Linked DNA regions of Homo sapiens: region 2 is linked to region 1. Evidence: fine-mapped expression QTL. Tissue or cell type: thyroid. Region 1 holds a variant in brackets; the other region holds the start of a gene. All regions are shown on one strand. Distances are between the middles of the regions.

Region 1 (5,147 bases):
AAACATGAAATGATATAATATTTTTGGAAAATAGAAGGTTTACACTATAAAGCCTAGAGTAGGTTTTTTAACCTCAGCACTACTGATATTGTGGGCTGGAGGATTCTTTGCTGTGAGAAGCTGTCCTGTGCATTGTAGGATGTTTAGCATTCTCCCTGGGCTCTACCCACTAGATGATAGTAGCACATCCTCCAAGCTGTGACAACCCAAAATGCCTCCGGACATAGCCAAATGTCCCTTGGCACAGACAAATGTCCTTAGCCAGAGCAAAACTGTCCCAGTTAAGAACCACTGTGTTAGACTGAACAACAACAAAAAATTTAAAATATCAGAAATAAAGGAGGGAACACCATCCTTTAAGACATCAAAAAATATTATGAACAATCCAATTTTATGCCAATAAATTCAGCAACTTAAATGAAATAAACAAATTTCTTAAAATACAAATTACCAAAACAGACACAGGAGTAAACAGAACATCTATATAGCCCTACATCTATTAAAGATACTGAATTCACAATTCAAAACCTTTCCACAAAGAAAACTCAACACTGTTTGGTGAATTCTATCAAACTTGAAAGAAAATATAAATCTGTATTAGTTTTCTAGGGCTACCATAATAACATACCACAAACGAGTAGTTTAAACAACAGAAATTTATTGTCCCACTGCTCTGATAGCTAGAAGTCCAAATCAATGTGTCAGCGTGGCTGTGCTTCCCCGGAAACCTGTAGGGGGAATCTTTCCTTGCCTATTCCCAGCTTCCTGTGGTTGCCGGAAGCCCCTGGTGTGTCTTGGTTTGCAGCTGCAGCCCTGCAGTCCCTGCCTCTATCTTCACGTGACATTTTCTCCTCATGTGTGTGTCTCTTTTCTTAGGGTGGATTAGAGCTCATACTCATTGAGTATGACCTCATCTTAACGTTACATCTGCAATGACCCTATTTCCAAATAAGGTCACATTCTGAGGTACTGGGGGTTAGGGCTTCAACCATTTTTTTTTTTTTTTTGGTGGAGACGCAGGACACAATTCAACCCATTACACACCCAACCCTACGTAAACTTTCAGAACACAGAGGAAGGAATATATCTCATTCACTTTGACAGCAGCATTACCCTAAATACCAAAAACAGGTGGTCAGCCTTTTGGAACCTATTATCTTTTTCATTAACAGTGATCATTAACATGGAGCAAAGTCCAGCCTTGAAGTCTATGCTCTGGGAGGAGGGGGCAGGCGACAGATGGAGAAGCGTGTATAGTTTCAAAATCTCCACAGAGTCTTGGAGGCTACTGAAATTTCCCTTACACCTACTGGGACATTCTATTCTGCTTAAAAATGGAAAAATGATTTCAAATTAATAAAAGTTAAAGGATGGTGCCTGCTCACAACTAGTTATTTGCCTATCTTTAAAACCTTACTGTATATGAAACTTTTTTCTGAGAAGCAACAAGATCTACATGAAATCTTAATACTGACAGTCATTAGTAAATGCAATGCTTTATTTTTAAAATCGTGTCCAATTTCCATAGAGAAGGTAGTTCCCTGCACAGATGGAACAGAGCCCAAAGAAATGAAACTGGTCGGAAGGGTGCTCCCATCCCTTCCTCCAGAGATGAAATGATCCATTCAAACTAGATTTTGGAAGAAGAAACCATGGGAATTGGTGACAAGTGCATCCTGACTCTTTGTACACAGGGAATAACCCCATCCACTGACATTATAACACCTTCTGACTTTAAGGGACTTTGATATTAAAGTTGGTGGTATTTGAGATCTGGAGTTGAATGTAAGTATTACAGCAGCAATGTAGATAAGCTTTTAAAAATTACTCCCTTCCCACTGTTTTGTTCACATTACTGCCCAACATTTACCTAAGGTTTTCATATTACAACTACAACACTAAAAGACGCCATAAAAAAGAACAGTCAAGCCAAAGGGAACAATGCAGTTTCATTTCCTTAAAAACTAACAAAAGTGATTAATTACATGTTGGCAAACCAACCCTTAAAAAAATAATCAAGACAAAATGGCGCAGAGATGATTTGTGGAAAACTTGCTCTCTAAGGTCTTCCGATAACTGAACCATTTAAAATTTAGACAGACTTATTCTATAATTTCCTTCTGTTTGACGTCGGTGGAAAGGGGGCAATAAGAAGGTCATGCTGTTCTTTCCAGAGTTTTACGAAAGATTGTGGCTATCTCCATTTAAAGAACATTTAGATAATTATAATGTTATTCTATTCATCTTATTCCTCTCCCCAGAACATGTTATTTTACAGCTTCTATATATAAGATGTAAAACAGTTTTTCCACTAAAACATATATGAATGTGACTTGTCAAAAAGTATGTAAGTAAAATTCCTTTTTTCTTTTAGTGCAGCATTAACTAAAGATGGAGCTACTGAATTAAGACATTTCCAGTGATTACTTCAGGAACTTACAATGCAAGGCTCACTTCAGTAAACTATAAACTGAAAGGAAAATAATTCCATTCAATTGTAAATTATCTTATCTGACCACAGTGGAAGCATCATCAGGTGGTCCATGGCTAGGCCTTTCTGTTCATATTAGAAACCTAATATCCCTTTCTCACATAAAGACATGGCTGCAGATTACCAAAGTGCAATTAAATGAACCTGGGTTAAGTGTTTTATAAGAAGGAGAAGAATTATCTGGGGTGCTTGCTAAAAAGTCCAGTTCCTCTGTCCTATCTTAATAATTCTGAAGCCTGGATCACATTATTTTATTTAATTAATTATTTATTTGCATTTTTAGCAGAAATGGGGTTTTACCATGTTGGCCAGGCTGGTCTCGAACTCCTGGTTTCAAGTGATCCACCAGCCGTGGCCTCCCAAAGTGCTGGAATTATAGGCATGAGCCACCATGACAGGCCTGGATCACATCCCTTTAAACAAAAGTCCTTGGTGGGTCTTAAGATTGGGTAAATTTAGCAAGTAGTCCTAGATTTGTTAGC[T/A]GCAGTGATCAGACAGTAAAGACAGTTTTCATTTATTTTTATTGTAGTACAGCTGACACATAAGAAATTGCACATAAAGTATTCCACTGGATAAGTTCTGATATACATAAACACTCCTGAAACCACTGCCACAACCAAGATAAGGAGCATATCTATCACTTCCAAATGATTCTGTTTTGATCCTTTCCTTCCACCCCTCCCTACCACCAGCACTACCATCCCCAAGTACCCACTAATTTGCTTTCTGTCACTAGATAGTTGGCGTTTTCTAGAATTATATAAATAGAATTATTCAAGCTGTATACTGTTTTCCTAGCTTCTTTTACTCAGAATGATTCTGAGATTCATCTGTGATGTAGCATGTACCAACAGTTCATTCCTTTTTATTTAGTAGTATAGCTCGTTATATGAATACTGCAGTTTACCCATTTACCTGTTGATAAGCATTTGAATTATGTTCAGCCTTAGCTATTAAAAATAAAGCTGCTATGAACATCTGCGTAGTGTTGGTAAGAACATGTTTTCATTTATCTAAGAGCAAAATGACTGAATATGGTACATACATATTTAACATTTTAAGAAATTGCCAAGCTGTTTCCCAAAGTTTGGAAATATCCCATTTTACATTCCTGCCAGCAGTGTAAAAGAGCTCTTGTTCTTTCATATCCTTGTCAATATTTGGTATGGTCAGACTTTTCAATTTTAGCCAAACCAACAGTATCTCATTGTGGTTTAATTTTGCATTTCCCTAATGAATGACTAATAATGTTGATAATATTTTTCAAACTTGGAGAGAATATCTTGAGTTTTCTGACCAAGGCAAAAAGGGTGTACCTCTCCTATTGTGTATGTATTATTTAATTTCTCTCAGCAATGTATTGTATAGCTCTTTCACATTTTTTGTCAGATTTATTCCTGAGAACTTCGTATTTTTGATGTTCTTATAAACTTTTTTAAAACTTTATTTTTCATTGTTAGTGTTCAAAAATACAATTTATTTTTGTACACTGATCTTGCAATCTTTCTAAACTCACTTATTAGTTTTAGTAGCTTTTTTGTATATCATACTGAATTTTCTACATAAATGATCATACTATTCTGCAAATAGTTACTTTTTTCTATCTACTCTTTTCTTCCCTTAGTGCACTGGCTATAATCTTAAGGACAGTGCTGAGTAACAGAAGTGGTAAGAGTGGGCAACCTTGTCTTGTTCCTGGTATTAAATAAAAACAATTCAGCCTTTCACCACTAAATATGTTAGCTATAGGTTTTTCTGTAGACGCCCTTTACCAGGCCTAGAGCAGATGTCCAGAGGGACATGCCTCCTCTTAGATGCCTCTTTAGGTCTGGTGTGCCCCAAGTGCCAAAAAAGGACCTCAGTGCCTCTGGGGTGGGGCTCTGGCAAACAGCCACTGAGGTACGTTCCACCTAGCTGAGAGATGATGTTCCCACCCCAGTGGACCTGAAAAGCAGAGTACGAAGCCAAAGGGAATTATTCTTGAGTCCTAAGGTTTAATATTGTTTGTTCGGTTAGGTTTTCAACTTATTTTAGATGCATTACTCCTTTCTTCTTTCCTATTTCTTCCCTTTGGAATGAGTATGTCTATCCATTACTTGTCCCACCACTGTATTTTTGAAGCACATAACTTATTTGCTTTTATAGGTTCAGAGCTAGAGAGGAATTTGCCTCAGCATAAACTGTACCTTGAGGTTCATCCATATCAGATTTAGACGACATTTAAATGACACTTTGGACTTAAGACTTTGGAGCTGATGCTAAAACAACTTAAGACTTTTAGGGCTGTTGGGATGGAATGAATGTATTTTGCATGTGAGAATGACATAAATTTTGGAAGGCCAGTGGCAGAATGTGGTGGACTGAATGTGTGTGTCCCTGCCACCATTTATATGCTGAAACCTTAACCCCCAAGTGATGGTATTAGGAGTTGGGGCCTTTGGAAGGTGGTCAGGTCATGAGAGTGCAGCCCTCATAAATGGGATTGGTACTCTTATAAAAGAGACCACCAGAGAGCTCCCTCACCCCTTATGCCACATGAGGACCCAGAAGAGAGGATGGATATTTATGAACCAGGAAAGGGGCTCTCAACAGACACCGAACCTGCTGGTACCTAATTTTGGACTTCCTAGACTCCAGAATTATGAGAATTCATTGT
Region 2 (5,147 bases), 87 kb after region 1:
CAGGATGGAGTGACTAGAGATCCTCTGTAACAGGTCAACCCTATTTGCACTAGAGAAAATACTACTAGAAGTCTCTCTCGCCCCCGGGGATAGACAAGGGAGTTAATTGAAACAATGCTTCCTACCCTCCCAGCAACAGCATTTCTGGGCATAAATTGGATGCTCATCAAACAGGAGCTTCCTCTGCTGCAAATACTGCTAAGAAAATTAGTTCCAGGCCAACCTTTGAATAAGGTAACAAATATATAACTCAAGTGCTAATTAGCAATGATTTATTTTCCACCATGACATAATCAAACTTCTACAGACAAAATCTTCATTTCATTCGATAAAACTTTGCAGCCTATGTCAACACTGTTTCATTTTTTTCAAAAATATGAACTAGGCCAGGTGCGGTGGCTCACACCTGTAATCCCAGCACTTTGGGAGGCCGAGGCGGGCAGATCACGAGCTCAGGAGTTCAAGACCAGCCTGACCAACATGGTGAAACCCTGTCTCTACTAAAAATACAAAAAATAGCCAGAAGTGGTCGCTACTTGGGAGGCTGAGGCAGGTGAATCACCTGAACCCAGGAAGCAGAGATTGCAGTGAGCCGAGATCACGCCACTGCACTCCAGCCTGGGTGACAAGAGCGAGACTCCGTCTAAAAAAAAATTAACTGTGTGACCTTGAGCAAGTTACTTTAAAACCCCACTTTCCTCATCTCTACAATAGGCATAATGCCACCTACCTCACTGGGCCCCGAGAAAATTAGAAGAAATTATGTGTATAAAGCATGTAGGGGCAGGTATATGGCAGGAATTCAATGTCAGTCCCTGGTTGTCTTCTGTCTCCTACCTACACCTCTGACTTTGTTTACCCATGTAAACAAAGTCACAAGCTATATAAGTGCTTTTAACCAAAAAGCCTTTACAAAACCATGCATAATACGTTAATATTTCTAAAATTAATGTGATATGAGTCGTCTTGTATTATTTTTCCTAAATCTTAGTCTTGTGTTCCAAGTACTACCCCAAGTAGAGTTTTAATTCAGCTAAACTACATTCAGCTAACTCAGCTAGACTAAGAAGGATTAAGAATGAGCACGACTTCATAAAAAGAGCATTCTTCTTTGGCTAAAAACTGCAAATCCGTACATGTAATGTCTAAAGAGTCTGCTTTCAGTAATTCCATTTCTACACTGAGTCAATCTCAACACACCTCAACAAAGTCTTATTACTTAAAAAAAAATAGAATACTGACAAATAATGGATGCAATAGAGAATAATTTTTCCCCTCAAACACTCAGAAGCACCACCTTCAGATGAAATAAAGATACTGCCATAATAACAAAAGAATGCAAACGTCTAGGTACCAAGGACTTCCTTTTTGGGGGGTCGTTCCTGTCAGATCTTCCTCTAAGGGGTCATTTCCAGAATCCACAAAGTCCTAACATAAGACCCCAGCAATTTTTCAAATTAATTCCCCAAACAACAAAGCTAAGCAAGTAAATGGAACCACAAACCGACCCAAGACTAAGTTCTTGTTTCCCTTCAAGATACTCAAAAGTAGGAGAGTGGCCCAGAAGTACAGAGTCAGTCCAAACTCCCAACACACCCAATGCAAAAACCAAAAAGGTATTGAAACTAAAAAGGTCTGCTACCTGGCGATTCATTCACTAAAAATATGCTTAGAATCTAAGCATATGCTCCAAATCTACGTCCCAAGAGTTGGAGGCTGCCACGAACATTTGGTGCCCTTATAACCTCCCCTTCTTTCTCTCTCGTTTTTTTTTTTTTTTTTTTTTTTTTTGTAAAAGGGTAAGCACAGAGCGTGGCCTCTACTGGAGCATCAAAACCACAGCAAAGGGTTTGCAAGTTCAGTCTAAAACGTGAATTTCGAGATATTCAAAATCGAGGGCCCTAGAGTGACACACATAGAAAGCGTCAAAAAAACTTCGTGCAGCAAGGAAAAAAAGTTGTAAGGGTGACTGACTCTTCTAGGGAGAAGGGCTAAGGAGGCAGTGAGGAGGATGGGATGGGGTGAATCTGGGTCTATCGCGGCGGGGCAGCGAGGGCGGCACGAAGGCTGACCCAGAGCTGGGGACCGGGCAGGGACCACACCTCCCAGCCAGCACGGCAGGCAGAGACCGGGCCGCGAGGCGAATCCGGGCGCGGGGGGCGGGGAGGGTACTCGCCCGAGGTCCACGGCTCGCAGACTGATCCGCCGGCGGCCGGAAGCTGCCCCAGCCGGCCCGACCTGCCCGCCCCGGCCTCGGCGGCCCCACTCACCGATCAGCCGGCGCACCTCGTCCTCGCTCAGGTAGAGACTCACGCTGGGCCCCGCGGAAGCCGACTGCAGCTCCGGGGGCCGCGGGGCGGGGGCGGCGGCAGCGCCAGGCGCGGGCAGCAGCGGCAACAGCGCAAGCAGAAGCAGCAGCGGCGGCGGCGGCGGGGCCCTCAGGCCGCGGGCCCCCGGGAGGCAACTCCGGCCCGGCCGCCCCAGCCGCGCCGCCCCACGCATGGCCGCCGCCGCCGCCGCCGAAGAGGAGCGTCGGCCGCCCGCCGCACCGCCGCCCACCCCCGGCCCCGAGCCGCTCACAGCCCCGAGCCGGGGGCGGCTGCCCAGCTCATCGCACCGCCGGCCCGTGGCAGCCAGCAGTGGCTTCAGACCTCCGGAGCGCGCCGCCGCCGCCGCCTCCTCGCTGCATCGTCCGGAGTTGGGGGCTGCCCGCGGGACGCGCCCGTGCGCGCCGCCGCCTCCCCGGGAGCGCGCACGCACCTTTCGCTCTGGGCGGGCCGGCCTGGGCAACGCGCTGGGGTTTTAAAGTGCCTCGGCGGGCGAAGGGCTCGGGTCACCCTCTCCGCAAGAGCCGGTCCCCGCCCCACGCGGTCACTGCGTCTAATGTTTGCTTGTCTATTGTCTGTAACCCTCCTTTCCCGACGGACGGGCCAGGCTGGAGCCACCGGCCGCGCCTGCAGCTCAGTGGGCGCCCCAGGTCCCCGGAAACGCCTGGATGCGGCCGTTCTGGTTGCGAAAAAGCAGCATGCTTTCCTGTTTAGTGGGAAAACTCAAATAAATAGAAATCATCCTTTATCTTACCATCGGTGATCAACTTTATCGTTTCCGTATCTATTATTAGAATTTATACTACATATATTTGTTTTCCAGAAAGATCTTAGCACGCTTTACTAACCCTATTTTTACGTTACAAAATTTTATTTATTTTTATATTTTTATTTATTTATTTTGAGACGAAGTCTTGCTCCGTCACCCAAGCTGGAGTGCACTGGCACGATCTCGGCTCACTGCAACCTCTGCCTCCTAGGTTCAAGCCATTCTCCTGCCTCAGCCTCCCGAGTAGCTGGGATTACAGGCGCCCGCAACCATGCCCGACTAATTTTTTTGTATTTTTAGTAGAGACGGGGTTTCACCATGTTGGCCGGGTTGGTCTCGAACTCCTGACCTCACGTGATCAACTGACCTCGGCCTCCCAAAGTGCTGGGATTACAGGTGTAAGCCACCGCGCCCTGCCAAATTGTTATTTTTTTTATAATCGTTCTGCATCACTATAATCAACCTGCCTTTGGGGTTGTTAATCTGTGGTCCATACCAGGCTTCGACAGCCTTCCAATAATATGAAACTGTGTGCAAAAGTGTATGTGTCTCCGTGCGTATTTGTGTCCACGTCCATGTTTCTGTGTGTTGTGTGTATGCTTGATTGCACACAGAGAGGTGGTATGTCATCATTTGTTCTAGGGAGTCCTTGTGCCCTCAAAGAGGTTAAGAACTGCAGATAGACCTCGTGTACTTAAAGGCGGTGGAGCCAGCCAGTGCATGGACTTCCGGGCCTCCTGATGTATTTTTGTGAGCCGCCCACCATCGCGGTCAAACTTGCACCAGTGCCCCCTCTCTTGGTGAGGCTCCAAGGGCCCCTGCCCTGTCCTGGGACACCTCGTCCCTGCGGACAGGCCCCCGTCCTGACCCCAAGGCTCTCGCGGGGCCGTGCCTCGGGGAGCAGCTGCTCTGACAGCTAGGCCTGGCTTCGGGGCACAGTTGCTCCATCGCAGTGAGGCCCTGGGAAGCGGTTATTTTTATCCTCAGGGAAGGGTAGGGAAAAGGAGAGGCTGATAAGGAGGGAAGTGCTGGAACTTGATTTTCTCCCTCCCTAGCAAGATACACGGATTCCATTTAGAGATAGGCTGGCCTCAATTTGTCAAGCTTCAGCGCCTCAGCACAAAATCTTACACCCTTCATCCTGCCGGAGGAGGCTGAGAAGAGGAAGAGGGGAGGAAAAGTGCTCCATCAGAGAAGGCTTTTAAGCCACAAAAGTCAGCAAAAATACTTCTGTTGGGACAGCCACTGCTACCAGGGTTCTGCCAGGAAGGGCTGGAGGCTCAAAACATGTTGTGTGAACAGGAATCTCAATTCAGATGGGAAGCATTTTTTTAAAGGATGGCATATTCTTTGCACTTTTAAAAAAGCTCACAGTCCTCAAAGAATGAAACTCCTAGCTTCTCGAGGTTCTTTAATTACTAGGTCTTGTCAGTGACTTCTTCAGGCGGCCTATGATGTAAACAGCAGAGAGCTCCCACTCAGGCCTGGCTGGGTTCTGGTACTTGTTAATCCTGTGGTCTTGGGAAAATTAAACTCTCCAAGCCTTGGTTCTCTCATTCATAAAAATCCCGGGATAATGCCCGACTCCCAGGGCTTTTACAGGATTTAATTGGAGAGGGATACAAGTAAAACATCTAGGCAGACGCTGGGTAGGTGTCACACCTGTTGTTATTGTAATTACAAGGAATCCTTTCCCTTTAATGACCACTTCCTGTGAAAGTTTCATCACCAGTTACCTCCAAACAGTTCAAACCTGGGACCCTCATGAACCTCATTCAATAGCACTGAGCCTGGCCCAGAGCCTGAGCTCGATGAAGACTCGTGCCAGGCATCACGCTAGGCACTGGGGACACAGGAGCGAGCAATGTGCTTCCTTGAGAACTTTGATAAACAAATGTTTTCATAAATTCTACAAAGACAAGTTCTCAAAGTGTGGCCCCCAGACCAGCAGTATCATCACCTGGGAACTTGTAATGTAAATTCCTTGGACACTGCCCATACTAACAGGTAGCAGCTCCAGGGCTGGGGCCCAACAATCTGTTTTCCCAAGC

What was found. PIP is the estimated chance that this variant, and not a neighbour inherited with it, causes the effect.
Region 2: it holds the start of RYK, and the variant in region 1 is fine-mapped to the expression of RYK in thyroid (GTEx, PIP above 0.99).

Annotation. Positions count from the first base shown.
Region 1 is chr3:134,161,244-134,166,390 of GRCh38, forward strand. All of the region lies in intron 13 of RYK (receptor like tyrosine kinase), which reads right to left. Among named protein-coding and RNA genes, the nearest start is that of RYK, 87 kb to the right of the region's middle. The variant T/A (reference allele first, on the strand shown) is at 2,974.
Region 2 is chr3:134,248,153-134,253,299 of GRCh38, forward strand. RYK (receptor like tyrosine kinase) reads right to left here and starts at 2,707. Exons shown (of 15, transcript NM_002958.4): 1 at 2,271-2,707. The coding sequence starts at 2,502. RefSeq lists an enhancer at 1,948-2,726 and a silencer at 2,062-2,881.